Linked DNA regions of Homo sapiens. The protein of the gene in region 3 binds, or shares a complex with, the protein of the main gene of each other region. Each region holds a gene or a part of one and is shown on either strand. Other genes may lie near its edges.

Evidence for each region. Proteins that work in one complex are often made in the same cells at the same time.
Region 1: CRNKL1 (region 3) and SRRM1 share a complex: the UniProt entries of both Homo sapiens proteins name them as parts of the minor spliceosome.
Region 2: CRNKL1 (region 3) and CWC27 share a complex: the UniProt entries of both Homo sapiens proteins name them as parts of the minor spliceosome.

Annotation. Positions count from the first base shown.
Region 1 is NC_000001.11:24,653,295-24,660,320, forward strand, and holds part of SRRM1 (serine/arginine repetitive matrix protein 1), read left to right. Parts: intron 1-1,011; coding exon of another isoform or gene 1,012-1,049; intron 1,050-1,560; coding exon 1,561-1,835; intron 1,836-2,357; coding exon of another isoform or gene 2,358-2,369; exon of another isoform or gene 2,370-2,396; intron 2,397-7,026. UniProt on the Homo sapiens protein: Part of pre- and post-splicing multiprotein mRNP complexes. As a component of the minor spliceosome, involved in the splicing of U12-type introns in pre-mRNAs. Involved in numerous pre-mRNA processing events.
Region 2 is NC_000005.10:64,778,923-64,785,948, forward strand, and holds part of CWC27 (spliceosome-associated protein CWC27 homolog), read left to right. Parts: intron 1-2,998; coding exon 2,999-3,111; intron 3,112-4,913; coding exon 4,914-5,057; intron 5,058-6,558; coding exon 6,559-6,657; intron 6,658-7,026. UniProt on the Homo sapiens protein: As part of the spliceosome, plays a role in pre-mRNA splicing. Probable inactive PPIase with no peptidyl-prolyl cis-trans isomerase activity. As a component of the minor spliceosome, involved in the splicing of U12-type introns in pre-mRNAs.
Region 3 is NC_000020.11:20,049,462-20,057,344, reverse strand, and holds the start of CRNKL1 (crooked neck-like protein 1), read left to right. Parts: upstream 1-5,002; coding exon 5,003-5,053; intron 5,054-6,722; coding exon 6,723-6,875; intron 6,876-7,883. Other genes in the region: CFAP61 (cilia- and flagella-associated protein 61), read right to left, coding at 549-691. UniProt on the Homo sapiens protein: Involved in pre-mRNA splicing process. As a component of the minor spliceosome, involved in the splicing of U12-type introns in pre-mRNAs.

The DNA of each region.
Region 1 (7,026 bases), on a different chromosome or scaffold from region 3:
AGAAATCATACTAAGTAAGAGAATTGGCCACCTTCTCTTTGGCTTTTAACTGGCTTCTGAAAAGTAGCTGATTATAGGGCCAGTAAGCTCCTTTTACCAGTATTAAAGTAATTCATTTGCTGTTATACTTTGAGAAAAGTATTTTTATGAATTTTTTATAAAATTCTCAGAAAATTCTCATTATAGAAGTAATGAAGCTTATAAGTAATTCAGACAGAAATAGCATAACTTGGAAGTTTTCCATAATCCGTGGGGGAATATATCTATATTCCATAGATATAATTGCTATTACTAGTTTAGTGTCTGGTTATTTTTCAAAACCCCAACTGTACCAGTGTTCTTTTTTTTACATCATTCTAAAATGAGCATAAGATAAAATATTTGAATCTTGGATATATCACTTTAAACAAAAATTAGTGGCTAAGTCTACCCAAAGTAGAGTCCTAGTGCACTGGTAGCAGTTTTTGTGCCTTCTTGCAATACGTTTCACCTGGCTTGGGAAGAAATGCCGATGATTAAGCTTCCAGTTATTTTGGACAGAATTTTTTGTTTGAGTCTTTTAAAGTTCTTTTCAGGGAACCAAATCAATTTGGAAATAAAGAGGGGAAAAATCAAGTAAGCTCTGTAAAGTTACTTTGTTTCTGCAGTCAGGTTTTTCAGAGTCCCATATTTTGAAAATTTTCTTTGGGGAGGGGTTGTTAAGATATATTGAACTATTACTACTGTTGCAAAGAATTGATGTGTTGTGCTCATAGAGGAAATTAGTGAGGTAAATGGTCAGTCAATTTTCAGGCATCACACTTTTCTAATTCCCTTTTAGGAGAAAAGTAATGCTGGTGCTTCCTAGTACAAGATTAGTGGAAACAGCTATTTCTTATACTGGAGTTTTGCAAACAGCATGTTTAAATTGTGCTTACTCAGCCATTTAGCAGTCAATATTTTACAGATTGTTTAAGATTCCCTTTCAGCCAGTTTTTATCTCACACTTAAGGTAGGGTTTCTTTTTTTCAGGTTCTCAGGAATTCTTCCGCCAAAGGTGAATTCTGCAGGTACACATAATTGCAACAGAACTTAACACAAATTTTGCCGCAGAATTCGAGAGGCCCCTGCTTCTAAGTTTATGTAGCTAAATGAATTCTTAGTTTTGCACATCTTTTTTAAAAATGCAACCTAAAGGTTTCTCAACATTGTGTTATTAAATGGAAAATACCTTGCCCCCAAATTTTATATGCAAACTCCAAAACACCAATACCATTCCTAAGGCAGAAGGACTAGTTAGTTATTTTATTATAGCATTCAACCTGACAAGTTTTATAACTGGAGAGAGAACACAGACAGAAGTATTTATCAGATTAAGTTGTTTATATTAATCTCAGAACTAGCTGTTTCCTGGCCTAGGTTATGGTTTTTTCCCCCATTCTTTTGGACTCATTTATGTGCTTAGCTACATAAACTCAAAAGTCGGATTAAAATAGCTGTATTTTTGTGTAAACTGTTCATACCTGTAAGGCCGTTCTTTATAAGTGTGCAATTAGTGAATATGAATACTTTATTCCACAGAAGAAGACGTTCGTCAGCATCCTTGTCTGGGAGTAGCTCATCATCCTCTTCATCTCGTTCACGGTCACCACCAAAGAAGCCTCCCAAGAGGACATCCAGCCCCCCTCGGAAAACTCGTAGGTTATCTCCTTCAGCAAGTCCTCCAAGGCGAAGGCACAGGCCATCACCTCCTGCAACTCCACCACCCAAAACTCGGCATTCCCCTACACCCCAGCAGTCAAACCGTACAAGAAAAAGTCGTGTTTCTGTGTCTCCAGGGAGAACTTCAGGTAAAGGTAAAAATCAAACACATATGAAACATGGTCTCTCTTTCTTTGGCTACAAAGCGTAGTCAGTTATTGCCCCCTGCTCACTCTCAAAGTATGAAATAGCTAGATAATATTTGTATCTAATACTCTCTGTAGGTTTACTTATAAGCCTACCTCTTTCCTGCTTTAAAATCTTGGGGCTTTTTTATGTGTAAAAGGGTTTTGTTTTTAGCAATGCCCTGTGGCATTGCGCAGGTGGAGAAATCTTTTACCAGCCGTGGGCTGTTTGAGTTGGGGTAACATATCAAAGTTTGCGTTGGCATGATAAGGGATCATTTTATTACTATGAGACCAGTTAACTTTTTTTTCTCCTGAAGATTTTTGGTTTGATATCTTAAATAAGAGGACTTCATATTCTCTTTTAGTTCTTTCTTGGTCGCATTGCGCTCCCAAGCAAAGGACATGGTGTCCTCTTAAAAGCTGATTTGTTTTTTTAATTTAGGTTCTAGGCAGGGTTCTTCTGAGTGTTGTCCTTGCTTTATTCTGCAGATTGATTTCTGAGGAATTTATGATCTGTGAACCTGCCAGGCAAGTAGAATGCTGTGTTAGTCTGAGTGAAGGTTGTGGTCTATTGGGGTTTGTTCTGTGAGCATTAAATACGCATGGAAAAAACTGTAGTGTCCATTTGAACCAGGCTCTCTGGAGCTTAGGGCTGGAATGATATACAGCCTAAAAGGTGAGTAGTAAGGGATGGGGAGGATCTTAAAAGCTGCTAAAGCAATTGAGTTTTAAGGAGCAATCTGTAGGTTAACACACGCTGGGGTTATTATGATCATATTGAAAATTTCAGGTTAGAGCCAGGTGTGGTGGCATGAGCCTGTGGTCCCAGCTACTCAGAAGGCTAAGGCAGGAAGATCACTTGATCCCAGAAGTTCAAGGCTGGCCTCAGCCCCATAGCGAGATCCTGACTCTTAAAAAAAGAGAGAGAAAAAATTTCAGGTTAGAAACAAAGAAATGGGGATGGGCAAAATTTTCATTATACATTTTAATGAGCTTGATGAGACCAGCATTGCTAATTATTCACCCTGTTGCCTTATCTCCCCACTCCCCAAGGCTGCAATGTGGTGATACCTAGAAAGGCAAATTTTGCTTTCCTTTTTTGTATCTGTGACAATGAGGCATAGATAAGCTGACAGAGTGAAAGGGTGACCAGCAGATTATGATAGTCTGTAAAAAGTAATGTTTTCTGAATTGTGACATTTTTATTGTAGTGATAGGTTCATTAAATAAGACATGGCCACTTTTGTTGGCCCCTTAGAGAAGCAGCTAGTGAAAGTAGAGAAGCCTGTAACTGTTCCAGGTTCAGTCCTCAGTTTGAGAGAGGGGCTTCGGGATCACTGTTTTCATAACCTCATGTACCATACTGCTTTTCAGCATTGGGAAAATTTCAGTCCATTTTCAGTTACCATGTCCAAATCTGATGCCCATGGCCCTGGCCTATTTTGTCTTTTCCTGTAAAGTTTGTACTTCTGAATATTTATTCTTTGTCTGGAGCCACAAAGCTCTCCAGGGAAAAAAACAAGTGTTTTTACCTGTTACTTTGCAAAAACACATCAAGTGATGATTTTTTTCTATTTATATCATATAGCCTAAGAGTTGCAAAAGTACCTGAACAGAGGGACCAATCCTTGTTAAAATAGGTTGATTGTTAAGAATTATTAGGTACTTTTAAAAAGCATCTGCACAGATGCTAATTTCTTGTGTTTTGGCATATACTTTTTGCAAACAAGACAAGAGTGGATATGTACATAGGAAAGAAGTAAGCCATGGTGAAAATAAGTATTTCTGTGGGTTTTGGGACAGGGCTTCCGTGTTCAAACAACCTACCCAAAGAGAGGCACTACAGGCAGTGTAGTCAGTCTCCCCTGTGACCACTGGAGCTGAATATTGGTTTGACCTACTTGGAAATAACCTCTCCCCACCACCCCGCTAAATAGAGCCAGCATCTCACTCTGTCACTCGGGCTGGAGTGCAGTGGCCCAGTCATAGCTCACTGCAGCCTCCAACCCCTGGGATTACAAGTGTGAGCCACCACACCCGGCCCAGACAACCTTTTATATTAAACTGATCCCAGCCCTCTGTGATGAAATTTCAGAGCTAGAAAAGACCTTAACAGTTGTCATCAAGAAACAGATTTTCAGGTTAGTTGACTTGGTCAAGGTCAACCAACTAGGAATAAAACTTGAGTTGTCATTCCCAGTTAAATAGTGAATACTTTTCACAACTTTCCTACCCCAGAACTCTTCTTTGATTGCTAAAGGTGAGAAATGGAGGGCAGGGTTGAAATTCTTTAGCTTCTCTATCTGGTAGTATGATTTCAGAAATTACTTTGCAGTTTCTGCTGCTTAGAACAGTAACATCATTGAAATGTAATAGATATTACAGTTAATATTTTCCCTAGTGGCCACTAATCAGGGCTTTAGGGCTCTGCTCTTGATAGTGGGCAAATGGAGTGGGAGGGAGGCAGGAAAAGTGTTTTGGGGAACTTACAGGTTAATTATTTGGAATACAGTATACAGTCATCTGAAGGGATCTTAGGGGAAACATTTGTAATTACTGACATTTCATAAATTGGCATTATCTTAGTACATAAAATAGTGCTTGAAATCAGTGGCACAGTCAGCGAAGTATGTTAACATGATCAATACTGGTGGTGACGGTGTGGTAATTTTGATTTATTTAGATTAGCTTGGCCACATACATTGTGCTATCTGGACACTTAAATGGTTATTTTACTATTGTTGGTCACAGAGTAACTTATCTTTATAAGTGATCTTTTGGGCAGGTCTAAGATTAATAATTAATAGGACTGTTGGAGTAAATTTAAAATTGTGGTTTTAAAGTTGCCTTCTACGATTTCTGACTTCATGCTAGAATGATTTTGTCCCTTGAATACTTAAAACAACATTAACATAAAGTAAATGGTGTAAAGTCTCATCTAGAAAAATAGAAATCTGAAGTGCTGTTATAATATTAATAATGCTGTGATTCAATTGTATTAAACCAGAGTAGGAGTATATAAATGATAGTTGTTTGATGGTATAAATTTTTTTTTTTTTTTTTTTGGAGACGGAGTCTTGCTCTGTCGCCCAGGCTGGAGTGCAATGGTGCAGTCTTGGCTCACTGCAACCTCTGCCTCCCAGGTTCAAGCAATTCTCCTGCCTCAGCCTCACGAGTAGCTGGGATTACAGGCACATGCCACCACACCCAGCTAATACAAATGTATTAATAAAGACTACTTTAGCTGAGTAATTAGTGAGAAATTGAATCAGGATGCAACTCCAGATGTGTATTTCCACTGGGGGAGAATGGAAATAATGTTAAATTCACTTGTATTATATAATGAGTAGGCTTTTGCCAACTATCTTGTAAGCATAACCACATTTTTAATGTTTCTTAGGGGAAAATGTATCCAAACAATCAGCTTCCAAAGCAAGCTTGGGAACCCAGTTCTCTAAGGTGTGGTAACTTGGACATGCACTTTTTAACGACGTGCCCATAATATCTTTGCAGAAATTGAGGATTAAGTAACACTTAAAAATAGAGAATATGGACTTAGAAAAAGAGCCTCAAATAGTTAACAATTTTAAAATATTTTTATTTCTTTGAATTTGTTAAAATATAAGTATTAAGTATAGTTTGCTATTTGCACTGTCATGATTCCTGATATCTAATTGAGTGATAGCCATTCTTTACCCAATCCAGTGATTTGTCCAAATGGCTTATTACGTAGAAATTTTAAGAAAAGTCGCTGGGCGCGGTGGCTCACGCCTGTAATCCCAGCACTTTGGGAGGCAGAGGTGGGTGGATCACCCGAGGTTGGGAGTTCAAGACCCGCGTGACCAACATGGAGAAACCCTGTCTCTACTAAAAATACAAAATTAGCCGGGCGTGGTTGGCGCATGCCTGTAATCCCAGCTACTCAGGTGGCTGAGGCAGGAGAATCCCTTGAACCCGGGAGGCGGAGGTTGCAGTGAGCCGAGATCATGCCATTGCACTCCAGCCTAGGCAACAAGAGCGAAACTCTGTCTCAAAAAAAAAAAAAGAGAGAGAAAGGGAAAAGTCTGTTCATTGAAAAGGCATACTGGTAAATTCTTCATTTTGACTTCTTTAGCAAAGATGCGATTACTGTGTTAGATCACTGGTTCTCTAATTACTGCCCCTTGGAATAAACCATTACAGAATTCTGAATGTGAGTGTCTGTTAAATGAGATGTATCTGTATTCTGAGTCAAACATTCCATGGCAATTGCTTTAATCACACAAAACAGGTATCAGGATCCTGAGAGGATCAAATTGTCTGTAGGTTTATTTCTTATTGGGATGTTCTCAAGTGGTGTTTTAGGTTAATTTATGGTATATATATGTTTATATGTGAATATACTTATGATTTTAGTTGTAGCAATGGATAGATACTATAAGCAGAGTTAGTTGTTGAGATTAAAACCCATGGCCTAAAAATAGATTCTTGGATTCACATCTTAGCTCACTTAAATTGTCTTTGTGACTGAGGTGAAGTTGCTTCTTTTTAAGCCTCAGGTTTCCTCTCTTGTGAAATGGAACAGGGAGAAAGGGATGTGATACTACTGTGTTAATAGTGTGTCTAATACAGCAGGCTTACAAAAGGTAGTTACCATATTTCTATGTTATTGGTAAAAGACAATTGGATAATTCATAGGATACCCACTGCTCTCCTACTACTTGAGGTATAGAAATGCCTTTTTTTCTTTCTAGCTCTTTGGAAAGAATCCTCGTCTTTGTATTTAATCATTTTTACTATTTGTGGCGGTCTGCTTTTTTTCATGGGTAGTTTAAATCCCCTGTGCTATTGTGAAGATTATGCTCTACATAAAGAACCTTTAACCTGTTGGGCAGTCATTCTTCTTTTCTAGACCAAATATCTTTGTGAAAGTTTCATGAGATCTTATTTCTTAATCATTTATCATCTTTTACTTTTCTGAACCCACCTATTGTGGTTGCTTAAAAGCTTTCATGTTGATGAAGTCTCTGAAGTTGAGTGTGAGGGAGTGAGTGTGGGTGTGGAGGGTGTGTATTTTAGATTGTGGAGCTCGTGTAGCACACAGAGGTTTACTTTACTGAGCTTGTTCTACTCAGTAGCAGCTCCCAATTTCCTTTAACTGTTGGTTTTCTTGGGAGAA
Region 2 (7,026 bases), on a different chromosome or scaffold from region 3:
TAAATACAGTTGTTAGAATACAGATTATAATTTTTAAAATATGCATTGTATATCCAGTTATACTTTGCAAATATAAATAATTATGAGGGTGTCTCCAAGACACTAAAATAGGAACTTTATAAATTATGTCAGTAACTGTATCAGTAAAATGCCTGGCCCACAGTAGATACTTGATAAATATTTTTCATTGAATGAGTTATATTCAGGTTGTATTCAGTTGCAGGTAATAGAAGACCCAACTCAAAATGATTTAAATAATAAAGACATTTATCCTCCTGTATGTCAAGAAATCTGGTGAAATCTTTAGGGAAGCTCAGTGAAATCTTTAGGGAACTGTGCTTTTTCCATCTTTCTGCTTTGTAACCCTCAGCATGTGATTGAATCATGACTGCCTAACTCGATGATTGGCTCAACCACAACCTGCTTTGTTGCTATTTGCTTTTTGTTTGTTTTTACAACAACAAAAATAATAGCTTTTGTTTATTCAGTACTTCATACTACATATGTTTTCCTCTTGTGCTTACCTAATGTAAGTACAGAACTAATTTCAGTGATGTAAAATTTCTTTCCTTCCACCTAACGGATTTTTTGAAAAAACTGTGGTGAAGTTTATATAAAATAGAACTAACCATTTTAAAGTGTACAGTTCAACATCATTTAGTATATTCACTATAATGTGCAGCCGGCACCTCTATGTAGTTCTAAAACACTTTATTACCCCAAAAGAAAACTCTGTATCCATTAACCCAGTCATTCTCTATTCTCCCCTTGATATGGTTTGGCTCTGTGTCCCCACCCAAATCTCACCTTGAATTGTAAACCCCATAATCCCCACATGTCTAGGGCAGGACCAGGTGGAAGTGATTGGATCATAGGGGCATTTTCTCCCTTACTGTTCTTGTGATAATGAGTGAGTCTCATGAGATCTGATGGTTTTATAAGCATCTGGCATTTCCCCTGCTTGCGCTCACTCCATCCTGCTGCCTGAAGAAAGTGCCTGCTTCTCCTTTGCCATCCGCCATGATTGTAAGTTTCCTGAGGCCTCCCCAGCAATGTGGGACTGTCAATTAAACCTCTTTCCTTTATGAATTATCCAGTCTTGGGTATTTCTTCATAGCAGTGTGAGAATGGACTAATATACCCCTCCTCCACCCACAGCCCCCAGCAACCACCAATCTATTTTCCATCTCTGCAGATTTACCTATTCTAGATATTTCTTATAAATGGAGTCAGACAATATGTGACTTTGTGTTTGGGTTCTTTCACTTAGCATGTTTTTGAAGTTCATCCATTTTGTAGCATGTATGAGTATTTCATTCCTTTTTGTGACAGTCATATTCCATCATATGTATATATCACATTTTATTTATCCATTCATCCATTGATAGACATTTGAATTGTTTACACCTGTTGGCTCTTGTGAATAGTGCTGCTATGAACATTTGTGTGTATTTGAGTACTTGTTTTCAACTCTTTTGGATGTATATACAAATATATATATTTTGGATATATATATAAACAATCGATTCTTTTGGATATATATAGAAACAATATATATAAATATATGATGTTTTGTAAAAGCAAATCTGATCATGTGCACAGTGATATATATATTATATATAATTTATATATCAAACAATATATATCAAAATTACTTATAACTATAATTACTTATATATTATATATTATTTATGTGAACTATATATATTTACACTTATAAATTATATATTAATATATAAACATATATATCACTTGTATACACACGCGCACACGCGCGCACACACACACACACACACCGGAATCATAATTGCTGGATTACATGCTAATTCTGTGTTTAACTTTTTACACTATTTTATATTCCCACCAGCAATGTAAAAGGGTTCCAGTTTCATCACATCCTTACCAACACTTATTCTTTTAAGGTTTTTGATGTTAGCCATTCTAGTGGGTGTGAAGTAGTATCTGATTGTGGTTTTGATTTGCATTTCTCTAATGACTAATAATATTGAGCATCTTTTGTTATGCATGTTGGTCATTATTGCTACTTCTTAATGTAAATTCTCTTATTCAGGCAAATTCTAATTCCTGCTTCCCACTCAATTTGTCGCTTATACTTTGCCTCACTGAGATGCCATGCTTCTGCCATTCCCAAGTTAACTTCCTTTTCTTCTATGAAGTATCCTAATGATTTTAGGTTCCAGATAATATATAGTATAGGAGGTCATATACAGTCTCTCCTGTATATTTATGAGTTCTAAATTATATACTCCAATTGTATATTTTTGAATTACATATAAATATTAATAATTTATTTCAATCATTTAGCAAACTGAGCTAATTGGACTCAAGTATGTATTGTGTTATTTGTTTTATTTATTCAAAGTTTCTTGAGGAGGGTGTATTGATGGTTCTAGACCTATAACTAATAAGTAATTTTGATATATTATGAGTTTGTGTGTTAATAAATTAATTTCCTGTGAGGAAAAGAGGAAGCAGTGGGAAATAAGGTATTTATCTTTGCCAGGGTTTCTCAGTCTCCATACAGTTGACATTTTGGGCTGGTAATTCTCTGTTGTGGGAACTGTCTTTTGCAGTATAGGGTGTTTAGCAGTATCCCTGCCCCCTACTCACTGGATGCCAGTAGTATCCCCCATTTGTGATAACCAAAAATATTTTCAGAAATTGACAAATGTCCCCTGGGGCACAATATTGCTTCTCCTCCCTATCAGAACTCTCTAATTTCTGTTTTGAAGACCAGTCCAGAGTTTGAGAGAATCCTAGAAATAAAAACAAGAAGTCAACAGTGATGGTTTCTGTAGAAATGTGTGCTGTTCTGAGAAGTAACTATTTTATAAGAAGGAGGATACAAAAGGTTTTGGCTGGGGAGCGTATTTAACATTCTGGAAAATAAATCTTTTGACTCTAGCTGTATTAATTTTGGTAACTGTAGAGATGATTAATTTTAGACATTGATAAATTATTTTTATTTTTTTTTCAGCTTATTATGACAATACCATTTTTCATAGAGTTGTGCCTGGTTTCATAGTCCAAGGCGGAGATCCTACTGGCACAGGGAGTGGTGGAGAGTCTATCTATGGAGCGCCATTCAAAGTAAGACTGAATTATTATTTTTATTATTATTTTTGTTGTTATTATTATTTCCAAGTCAGTTTGGATTGCTTAATCGAAAATGATTGTGTTCCACAAGAGGAAAAAACGTTTCACATTAGTATATAAACATCAGGCTGGGTGCAGTAGCTCATGCCTGTAATTCCAGCACTTTGGGAAGCCGAGGGGGGCGGATCACTTGAGGTCGGGAGTTTGAGACCAGCCTGGCCAACATGGTGAAACCTCATCTCTACTAAAATTACAAAAATTAGCCAGGCATGGTGGCACACGCCTGTATTCCCAGCTACTCAGGAGGCTGAGGCAGGAGAATTGCCTGAACCTGGGAGGTGGAGGTTGCAGTGAGCGGAGATCGCACCAATGCACTCCAGCCTGGGCGACAGAGCGAGACTCCGTCTCAAATAAATAAATAAATAAATAAATAAATAAATAAATTGTCTGTAAAAGATGCATTAATCAAGAACAGGTCAGTGATTTCTTAACTGCCAACATAGATCTAAGAAGAAAAGGAGTTAATGTCATAGTGAAGATAATAACAACAGCAGGTTCAAGTAAAAGCTAAAAGTTGTGTTTGTTATTAATTTGATGGCACCAATATCATGTTCTTTGAATGAGTAAATATTGGTATCTCTTAAAATATGGGAGTTTTTGAAAAATTCGTTTTTATATTAAGGGAATAGATTGCATTTTCCTTTCATCTTTTAATGAGTCATTGTGTGATTCTTGAAGAAAATACTTGAACTGTTAGCTTTAATTTCCAGATGATAATGGCCTTAGAAATGTGGAATAGTTATTTTAAAAGTCTCAGATGTCACTTTTAGACTATTTTATATTTTACCATGGTAAGACTTCTCATGATTTTAGATACTCCGTCTAGTCGGAAGCATTCTTTTATTCTTTTATTTGGTGTGACAGAATAGCTGTTTTTGACAATTCCTTCCTAATTTGAGATTTTTGCTTCATTATTTTCAGGTAATACAGTTATCTTGTTACATTTTTCAATTAGGTCATTTTGAATACAGTATACAGAGTTATGATCCATTGAGTTCAGATCTCTTGAGAATTATTTATTAAGGAAAAATATCTTCCTTTGTGAAAAGCATTTATGATATAACATGACTACATTTATAAATGAGTTCTGTATCAGGCTGGATGGAAATTCTGTTAACTAAGAGACTAATATATTTGTTAAGTAGCCCTGTCATGGTGAGAAAACCACCTTAGAAAGGCTTGTTCCTGCTCTTTTGAAAACTGGCAAATAGAATCAGTGCCATTTCAGAGAAGATTCAACTTAGGACTTTAAAAAGACATGGTAAAATTACATAACACAATCATAGTAGATTATTTGAATTAAAAAACAAGAACAAAGCAATTGTTTAATGACATTTAGAATGAGATGGGAAGGAGTAATAATTGAATACTCTGCAATGGCTCAAAGGTAGTTTTCTGGGAGAAATAATAGAAGATTTCAAAAGCATAGCTGACTTTGGGATGAGAATAGGGAAATGACTTAGAAATCCATTCCCCCTTGGGTACTCTTCCTTTAGATGTAACTAAGCAGCTTTCTACAAAATAGGGTATATTTCTGTCTGAGTATATTTAGAAGATACAGTCTAGTGAATTCAAGTTTAATAACATTGAAAGAATAGTAAATACTTGAAAATCAATTAAGTAAAATGTCTGCATTTTTTATTAGAAGTTGTATGGGACCTTGCAGGTCAAGTTGAATAACTGCATATGAAGGGTCTTATAACTGAGGACATTCACTAAATCTTTTTACATTTCAGGATGAATTTCATTCACGGTTGCGTTTTAATCGGAGAGGACTGGTTGCCATGGCAAATGCTGGTTCTCATGATAATGGCAGCCAGTTTTTCTTCACACTGGGTCGAGCAGATGAACTTAACAATAAGCATACCATCTTTGGAAAGGTTAGTGTCCAGTGATTTTAAACCTGTGGTTCAGTTTTTGGTTTTATGTTATTCCTTAGACTTCTAAGATACATATGATTAACTTATCTAAGAGCTACCTTTGTAAAAACATTCCATAGGATATGTTTATTATTTTCAAAAATGATGGAATATATTCCTAATATAGTGCACTATGAGGGAGCATCTAAGTTCTTTTTGGATCTTTCAATTCAGTCATTAGTTGTGACTTTAGTGTATTCCTTCTTTAAAATCATAGTAATGGTATGAGCTAAAATGTGCCACTTAGCCAATATTGATTTTACACTTTTGGAAGGACATTTAGGTAATAATATTTAGTAGTTTACAGTTTATTTTCTTAATGATGGATTTTCTTAAGTTTAAAGTGGAATTTGTGTTGACATTGAAACTTCTTACTGTAAATATTACTTTGAATAGTACCTATTTAATCCTGCTCACATTTAATGTCATATTAGGGAACGTCCTTTCTATAGAATTTTTAACAATTCCCTTTAAAAAGGGATTCTGAAGGTTTTCTTCTCTCACTCTTCTCCATTCTCATAAATATGTTTCTATATGTTTTAAGTCTTAGGCATATCGGACATCACTAGTGCATCAGCGCCCTCTGCTGGTTCAGTAAGAATGGTTTCCCCATATACTGGGCAAAACTGGATTTTTGTGGTGATGAAAGGGAAAAAAACAAATTCAGTACAATTGGAAAGCTGGTGTTGTTTTAAAACTCTTGAAAAACACTGAATGAAAGGAATCACACTAAAACTATATGTTGCAATGTTGTTGGTTAATACTTATTAATAACAGTGGGTTAGGAAATATGCATTGGCACATTCTTTTGAGCCACTCCAGCACAGCCTGTCTGATGTTTATAGATTCCCTCCATTTATTCCTTAAAAATAAGAGTGTGTAATAAAATGAGATTTAAGTTGCCATTCTGCATCAGTTTTTACAATTGGGTTATATAACTAACACATCAGAGACAATGTGTAGCATAGTTAGAAGTTAGAAAGGCCATCACTGTTGGTTTTATACCTTCTTTGATCCTCATTTTTCTTATCTGTAGAAGGATAATATTAGTTCCTACTTTTAGGTTGTTTGTGAGGATTAAATGAGATAATGTCTCTAAAGCATTTACCACATTGTTATTGTTATTTGCTTATTTTATCCTATTCCAAAGTTTAAATTTGTTTATGATGTTTGAATGAAAAGTTGTCATTCAGTAGGAGATTATTTGGCATTATATTATTAATAAAAACTTACATTAAATATATATTGGAAATTTCCAAAAAACTTATTGGGGGATTGAACTCCATCCATGCTTTTCTCCTTTAAGATAAAGTTGCTTTATTTGCATTATTAAATGCATATATTTTTATGTAATCACATGAAATTTTCTTTTAATTATTTGAAAGATGTTTTCAAAGGTTTTCTCTTAATTCAAAGGATGAGTGCAATAATTTTCAATTACATTATATTTTTAATTTGATAGGTTACAGGGGATACAGTATATAACATGTTGCGACTGTCAGAAGTAGACATTGATGATGACGAAAGACCACATAATCCACACAAAATAAAAAGCTGTGAGGTAGGAGCATGATTATTACGAGATACAGCACTTACATTGTCGTTTAAGAGGAATTGATTCTTAGTATTTTTAAACTATTGGATTAAGGCTTTATACTATGTTAACATCACAACTCAAATTTTATCTCTAATTTATTTGGGCACCGTTTCTAGTTAAGAATTTTTTTAATTAAAGATTTTAATTCAAAGATGAAACTTTATCTGATAATCCAATGACTGAAAAGCTTACCTCATAATGGAAAGTTAAAGGAATTAGGTTTATTTAGCCCAAAGTAGTGACTTCATAGGTAATTTAAGAGTAATCTGCTGGGCACGGTGGCTCACACCTGTAATCTCAGCACTTTGGGATGCTGAGGTGGGTGGATCATGA
Region 3 (7,883 bases):
AACCAAGTTTGTTTGAATCCAAAGCCCATGAGAAACCTTTTTGATTTGCATATTATTATAGGAAATAGGAATTTGTTGTTCCCAGAGATTTCTTGCTACAATTTTTTCACTGTGCAGTAAGCTACCCATTTGCTCACAATAAGCCCCATAAAGACAAAAAGGTAGGATCCTTTTCTGGCATGTCATAAAATTGAGGAACCTTCTTTTTTTTTTTTTTTTTTTTTAATTGAGACAGGGGTCCGCTCTGTCATCCAGGCTGGAGTGCAGTGGCGTGTCTTGGCTCACTGCAGCCTCTGCCTCTTGTGTTCAAGCGATTCTCATGCCTCAGCCTCCCGAGCAGCTGGGATTACAGGCATGCGCCACCACGCCCAGCTGATTATTGTATTTTTAGTAGAGATGAGGTTTTGCCATGTCGGCCAGGCTGGTCTTGAACTCCTGGCCTCAGGTGATCTGCCTGCCTTGGCCTCTCAAAGTGCTGAGATTACAGGTGTGAGCTACTGCACCCAACCAAAATTGATGAACATTCTTGAACTTAGTTATCTACTTACAGAAGATAGATGATATTTAGCTTCCCAAACAGCTTGCAGGTAAATTTTCTAATAAGGCTTTTGATACAATAAACATCCTGTGATTCTGTTCTTCGGCAATGAACAACTTCTACCTTTCCTCTTGGAGAAGTGAGTACTGACATTTTTTATCCTGTCCCCAAAAGAGAGAAAAAAGTCCACTATTAATCTGATATGATAAGCCAGTTTGGTTATAATACACACAAAACTGAACACTAATTCAATTTCCATGTGGTCAGAGTGAACATGGTGTGAGAATACTGGTGTGACACGTTTTCCCCTGGGTGTAGTCTGTGACAACTGTCACTGCAAACCAGCTGACGTTCCTCCATAGGAGAATGAAGTTTCTGAGAACTGGCCTGTTTAGAAGTTTCTGCAACTATATTCTTTGTTTCCAACAAAGCTGCTTTAAAAAATTCTAACAATAGAATTGGAAAAACATTGAAAGGAATTATTTACGGATTCAGGGTCCTCTTATATTTAATCGGCCACGATGGCATGTGGTGAAGAGTTACTGGGGAAATACTGACAGCTGCTGCCTATGTTCTTAATAGAGTTCTCCAAACTGGAGCCCTGAAGGTCAGCAGTCTTGAGACATATTTTGAGACCAAAAAAGTTCTGTGGTTAAGTGTAGGAAATGCTCGCAATAGGCTTCCTGAAGGGCCACCAGGCCCATTAACATCTTTGAGAGGTTCCATAATAAAGCAACTTGTTTTCTTTGTATAACCCAGCCTTTCCGACACTCTTTGGGAAGAGAATCTCTAATGACGGCAACAGTGGAGAACCTAACGTTCCAGAAGGACACTTTGGGAAATGCTGTTGACAAAAACAGTAGGTCACAAAATGATTTCAATTTCTCTCTCATTGTCTCAATTTCTGTAAGTCTCTCTTCTCTCTTTCCCTCCCTTCTTTCCTTCATAGGGAAAGCCATTTTATTATATACTAGCCAGTGAGCTCAAAACAGGGAAAACAATGAAGGAGAAATTAATAATGTCTAGACTCCTATCGAAGCTAACCATAAATATTGTCATTCCTTGTTCTGGTTTTAAATTGAAAGCAAAATTGGAATGAGACATCTTGTTTGTGAAACATATCATAAACTAATGCTACAAGTATATAAAAATTCTGAATAAAATAAGGAAGTATAATTAATTAGATAACTGACTTTGGTAAAAAGAAAACAAGAAAAGAAGAAAGAAAGCGAGCGAGGGAAATTCTCCAACCAGGTGGCAATGATGTGAGCCGATCTGACACAGGTTTTGGGGATAGAATGGACCTCACTCCAAACAGAGAATTAAAAATTAAACCATGCATCTACCTGGGACTTTGGATGGGCCCCTCGGTAAGTGAGGGGGCTAGAAAAATTAAACTCACCAGCCCAAGAAAGTGACAAGCTTTCTCTACACAAAGCTCTAGGTAGAAAATAAAGCAAAAATACTGCTGAGAAGTCCAAATTCTAGACTAAAGTGGGTATGGCATTCTAGTCCACACAATCTGTGTATTATGGGAGTCACCAAGAACTTTAGATGATAGACTCTGAAACAGACTACAAACTAAGTATGTTTATAATAAAGAAATATAGAAAGAGAAACAAAAGTCATGAGAAGAGAACAGGTCATTATTTAAAAAAGAACAGAAACTTAAAAAATGAAATACGTGGTTATTAAAATTTAAACTAAGAGGATGGGTTAAAAACAGAAGAATAAAGAAAATAAACTGGAAGATACTTATGAACAAATTATCTAGAAAGAAGCACATAGAAACAGAAAATACAGAATTCAGTAAAGACACATGTAAGACAGAATGAAAAACATCTGTCTTATGGGAATTCCAAAAGGAATAAATGAAACATTTGAAAATAATGGCTAATTACTTTTAGCATGGATGAAAGACATGAACCTTCAGTTCAGAGCAAAAAATACAAATAAACTCCAAATATATAGTAAAACTACAAAACCCTAAAGACAAACAGAAAACTTTAAAGGAACCTGACAAAAGACAGACTGTCTATAAAAAATAATTAGACTGACAGAATATTTCTCATGAGCAACATTAGAAGCCAGTAGCACGGGGGTTAGCAAACTTCTGTAAAAGGCCAGAGAATAAATACATTAAGCTTTATGAGCCACATGTTGTCTACACAACTAGTCAACTCTGCCATTGTAGCACAGTAACAACCAGAGACAATATCGGCACAAATGAGCATGAATGTATTCCCACAAAATTTTACTTACATACACTGAAAGTTGACTTATGTATAATTTTCATGTGCCATGTAATTTTTAAAAAATGTTTAAAATGTAAACTACATATAAAGTTTAATGTAAAATGTGTGTGTGTATATGTGTATGTATGTGTGTGTGTATATATATATATATATATCCCTAGCTCATTCACAGTCCATACAAAATAGTCAATGGGCTGAATTTAGTCTACGGCCCATAGTTTTCTAACTACTAGAATAGTGTTTTAAAAATATAAAAGGAAAAAATAACCATTAACCTAGACTGATAAACCTAAACAATCACTTTAAAATGAAGATAAAATAAAGACAATTTCATACAAAGACTGAAAGAATTCAAAGAATCTTGTAGAAAGAACTAGGAGATGGTATATTCTGAGAAGAATAAAATCAGAAAGAAGTGGAATACAAGATTAAATGCTGGGAAATAAGAAGGTAAACATGAAGGTATATCTACAAAAGCATTGATGGCAAAAAGTAAGAAGGATAATACATTTTTCCTAAAAAAAAAAAAAAAAAAAAACAAACAAAAAAAACACACACAGAGATGAACTGAATTGCCAGACAACAGAAATGTAAGAGAGAAGGATGGTGATCAGAAGCAAAGTATTCTAGCATGTTTGTACTTTTGAGCAAAGGCAACAGATGATTAAACCAATGATTCATTTGGTAAATCAATTGTTTACAGTAACACATTTAAGGAAAATCACTTCAAAGAAACATCTTTTTAATATTTATTTATTTTGTTAGGTGGCTTTATGAAAGTGATATAAAATCTTCTCTATTTAAATTTTGAAAAGTGAGATAAAATATCTAAATAATATGGTTAATAAAGAGTTATGGCAAATACATTGATGTTGGTTATAACTGACTGCAGTTCTAGAAATCTGCATAAATCTTTTGTTGAAAGTAATATCTGCATTGGTAGACGTGATATTACTACATACATAAATATATATTTTCCCCAAACACCAAAAGAGCTTTGCAACTGTGGAAATTATCCTAACAAATGAGCTGCCAAGTCATGTCATTATACATTTGTCCAACCTCATAGAATGTACACCAAGAGTGAACCCTAATATAAACTATGAACTTTGGGTGATAATGATGTGTCAATGTAGGTTCAAGATTGTAACAAATGTACTGCTCTGGTGGAGGATATTTTTAAGAGTTGGAGGCTGTTAGAGGAGGGAAGAGGTACAATAATTGATAGCAGGAAGCTGTGGAGGGAGGAAATCTCTGTGTCTTCCACTTAATTTTGTTGTGAACCTAAAACTTCTCTAAAAATGTCTATTAAAAAAAATTCTCTTAACCTTTGCTTTTCAGTTTTTGAGGGCAGGTTAAGTATTATAACAGCTAACATCTACTGAGCATTTGTCTTTAATCCTAGTGAAACAGATGTTATTAGCCTTGTTTTATAGTTGAGGACATTGAGGCTAAGAAAATTTAACTAGAGTAATTAAGGCACACACAGAATTTAAACATGTTTCTTATCACAAGACTGAGTTGTTTTCCAGTTACTCTATTTATATTTTTTCCTAATATCTGGCTTCAAAGTACCTTCTGTTATTTTTAATTCCAAGCCTTAGAGTTAATTATTTGGGCACCTTAGAATTATTTGGGCACAACTGTCCCGAAACCAGAAACGAGGGGGCGTGGACCCAGAGACTACTAGAATGCAATGCTCGAGGCATTGCAGCCTAAAAGGGCGGCAGCTCGCCCCGTCGCATGCTGGGAATGGTAGTTTCCTCGCTCTCCCTTCTTCCCCCGCCCTCGAGCATCCAGATTGGAGCTCCGTTCTTACTCCCTTGCAGGGCGCCACGGCTCGACAGAGCCACTCGTCCTCGCCTGGTCATCCCAGTTCCGGAGGCTGACCTGGGGATGCGCCCTGGACGCCCTGCACCGCAGTCCTTGCGTCGCTGCTAGTCAGCACGGCGTTACCCACCTCATCCGCAGCTCCAGGACGCCGCACTCCACGCGCTGCCGCAAGGAGGACGCGCAGCCTGGTCACCATGGAAACGGTGCCGCCTCCGTCACGGCTCAAGCGAGAGGTCAAAGGTCAGTCCTGCAAGTTCCGCTTCCGGTTCCGAGATCCTGTTTGTTTTCTGAAAGCTTTGTGGTTTCGGTGAGCTCTCAGAGCCGATTTCTAGCGTCCGTGCCGGGGACAGGTGTCCAGAGGTCGACTGCTGCAGACATGGCGGCCTCCACCGCGGCCGGGAAGCAGCGGATTCCCAAAGTGGCCAAGGTAGGCGATCGCGAGGGGCCTTGTAGGAGGTGGCCTAGGAAAGGGGCATCCCTCAGCCCTGAGGGTGCCCGGGTTGGGAGAGAGTGTTCCCGCCGGGGAGAAGGCTCACCCTGAGAGATGGAGAGGAAGGGCAGCTGGTGGTGGGGCGCGGGCTCTTGTCATCGCGGAGCACGACCCGCGTTGGCGTGGCCTTCGTTCTGGGGTGGTTTTGCTGGGGAGTGGAGTGGGGTGGTTCGGTGAAGATTTACTGAGCCAGGCACTGCACTGGGCGCTGGGAAGCTACGCTCGTACGCTGGCCACAAGCAGTACTCAAAACACGAGTTTCTGTATAAAGACGACCTTGCTAGATGTTACCGAGAGGCAAAGTAGAATATGCCATGGGCGTGAATAAGGGGGTCGTATGAAGGGGTCCTGAAAGTAAATTTTGCTGAGGAAATGACCTTTAAGCTGAGACTTGAAGGCTGAATAGGAGTTAGCCCAGCTGACAGCGGAGGGCGAGAGTAGACGGTAGGAGTAGTATAGTATCATAAGTTAATTAAACAGTAGACTTACTATCTGGTATTTCCTTTGATAGCTAATACTTACCAAGTGCTTAATATGTGGCAGACTTTGAAGCCTTTACAGATACCCTCCCTCCAGTCTTTCTTGAGCCCGGATGACTCTCTTGAACTGGACCTTTACATAACTATTTGTCTGACTCGCAGGAGTAATGCATATAGAGCAAGTAACACTGTGTCTGGCACTTAGTGCTTATTAAATATGAGCTATCACCATTATCATCATTACTCCACATGTGGCATTAAGTAACATTTTTTATAATTCAGCTACATAAACTTTTATTGGGCATCACTGGTCCAATGGAAATATAATGCACACCACATATGAAATTTTAAATTTTCTCATATCTACATTAAAAAGTAAAAACAAAGCAAAAAAGTGAAATTAATTTTGATAATATATATTTTATTTGAGCTAATGTATCCAAAATATTATCATTTCAACATGTAATCGGTATAAAAAATGTAATGAGGTAGTTTATTCTTTTTTATACTTCATCTTCAAAACCAATGTGTATTTTACACTTACAGTCCACCTCAATTTGTACTCACCACATGTGACTCATAGCTACTGTGTTGGACAGCACAGCTCTAAGCTACGTTAGACTGTAAGCTTCTAAGACCTCAAGAAGCTTACAGTCTAATGATGAGAACTTACTGAAATTGCCTTTGACTTGAAGTGCCATGTAAAACCAAACCCAGTTATACACCGGGGCATTAAATAAGTTGAAGAATTCTGTAAATGCAGGTTGTAATGCTGTTAATAAGATGTGCTACACATTTTGATAAAACAAAACCTCTGGTCAGAATTTTACCTAGACGGCCTCAAAGTTTATTATTATACTCATCTAAAAGGGAAAACTTGCTATTATTTTTGCCACCTTTTTCTCTTGAGACTTTTACCTATGGCTTTGCAGTAGATACTATGAATAAGAGAGAAAACGGTATTTTTTTTTTCTTTTCAGTCTCATGGAGGAATGGGAACATGTCATACAAAAAGGGCATCTTGTGATAATACTAACAAAGTTCATATCCTAAAAAATGTATGTTTGTTTCTTAAGCCTTGTGTGAAGAGCAACTACTAAAAATAGAAATGTCTTCTTTCTTAAAAGGTGAAAAACAAAGCCCCGGCTGAGGTACAGATAACTGCTGAACAACTCTTAAGAGAGGCTAAAGAAAGAGAACTTGAGCTTCTTCCACCTCCACCTCAACAGAAGATCACAGATGAAGAAGAATTAAATGATTATAAACTAAGGAAAAGGAAGGTCAGTCAGTGTGGTATCTTTCAGTCCACTAATTGTTAAGACTGTATCGGTCAGTTTGAAAAGCTCCTCATTGGTTGGATTCTGTAGGGCAAGATGAGGTTAAGTGTTTCCAGACGCATGAATAATGTACTTCTGGTTACCAGATAACAGCATTTTTCTGAACTATATAAAATATGCCATGAGTTGTCTGGTTAAAGTGTAAAGAAATTGAATCTGCATAATTTTTGATGCTGAATCAAAGTGAGCGGAAGTTTAGCAGATGGAACAACTGACAACAAGAAGGAGGGTATGCTTAGTAAGGCTGCACTGTGTACTTCTGTCTATACCACCTTCTGTGTTAAGAATTGAGATCTGGCTGGGCACAGTGGCTCGCGCCTGTAATCCCAACACTTTGGGAGGCCGAGGCGGGCAGATCACCTGAGGTCAGGAGTTTGAGACCAGCCTAGCCAACATGGTGAAACCCCATCTCTACTAAAATACAAAAATTAGCCAGGCGTGGTGGCAGGTGCCTGTAATCCCAGCTATTCGGGAGGCTGAGACATGAGAATCACAGCAACTCGGGAGGCAGAGGCTGCAGTGAGCCGAGATCGTGCCACTGCACTCCAGCCTGGGCGACAGAGCAAGACTTTGTCTCAAAAAAAAAAAAAGAAAGAAAGAAAGAAAGGAAAAGGAATTGAGGTCTGCAAAAGGACCATGAGAAGACTTTGGGATCTGATTTGACCTCTTCACTCTAGAATGTGGGACTGTTTTAAAGCACTAATGCTGTTATATATGAAATTCTGAGAATTACCAGAGGACTTAAAGGTAATAGTCAAAAACATTTTTTATTAGGGACAAGCATAGACCATTTTAAAGTATCAGTTAGTTGACTGTAACCTTCTGTAGTGGGTTTCTTATTCCTCAAGGATTCCAGGATGTAATTTCTCTTAAATATGAACAAAATGAATAACCATTTTAGTACAAGACTTAAAATAGACCAAGGGTGCTGTCATTTTTAGTCATTTGTCT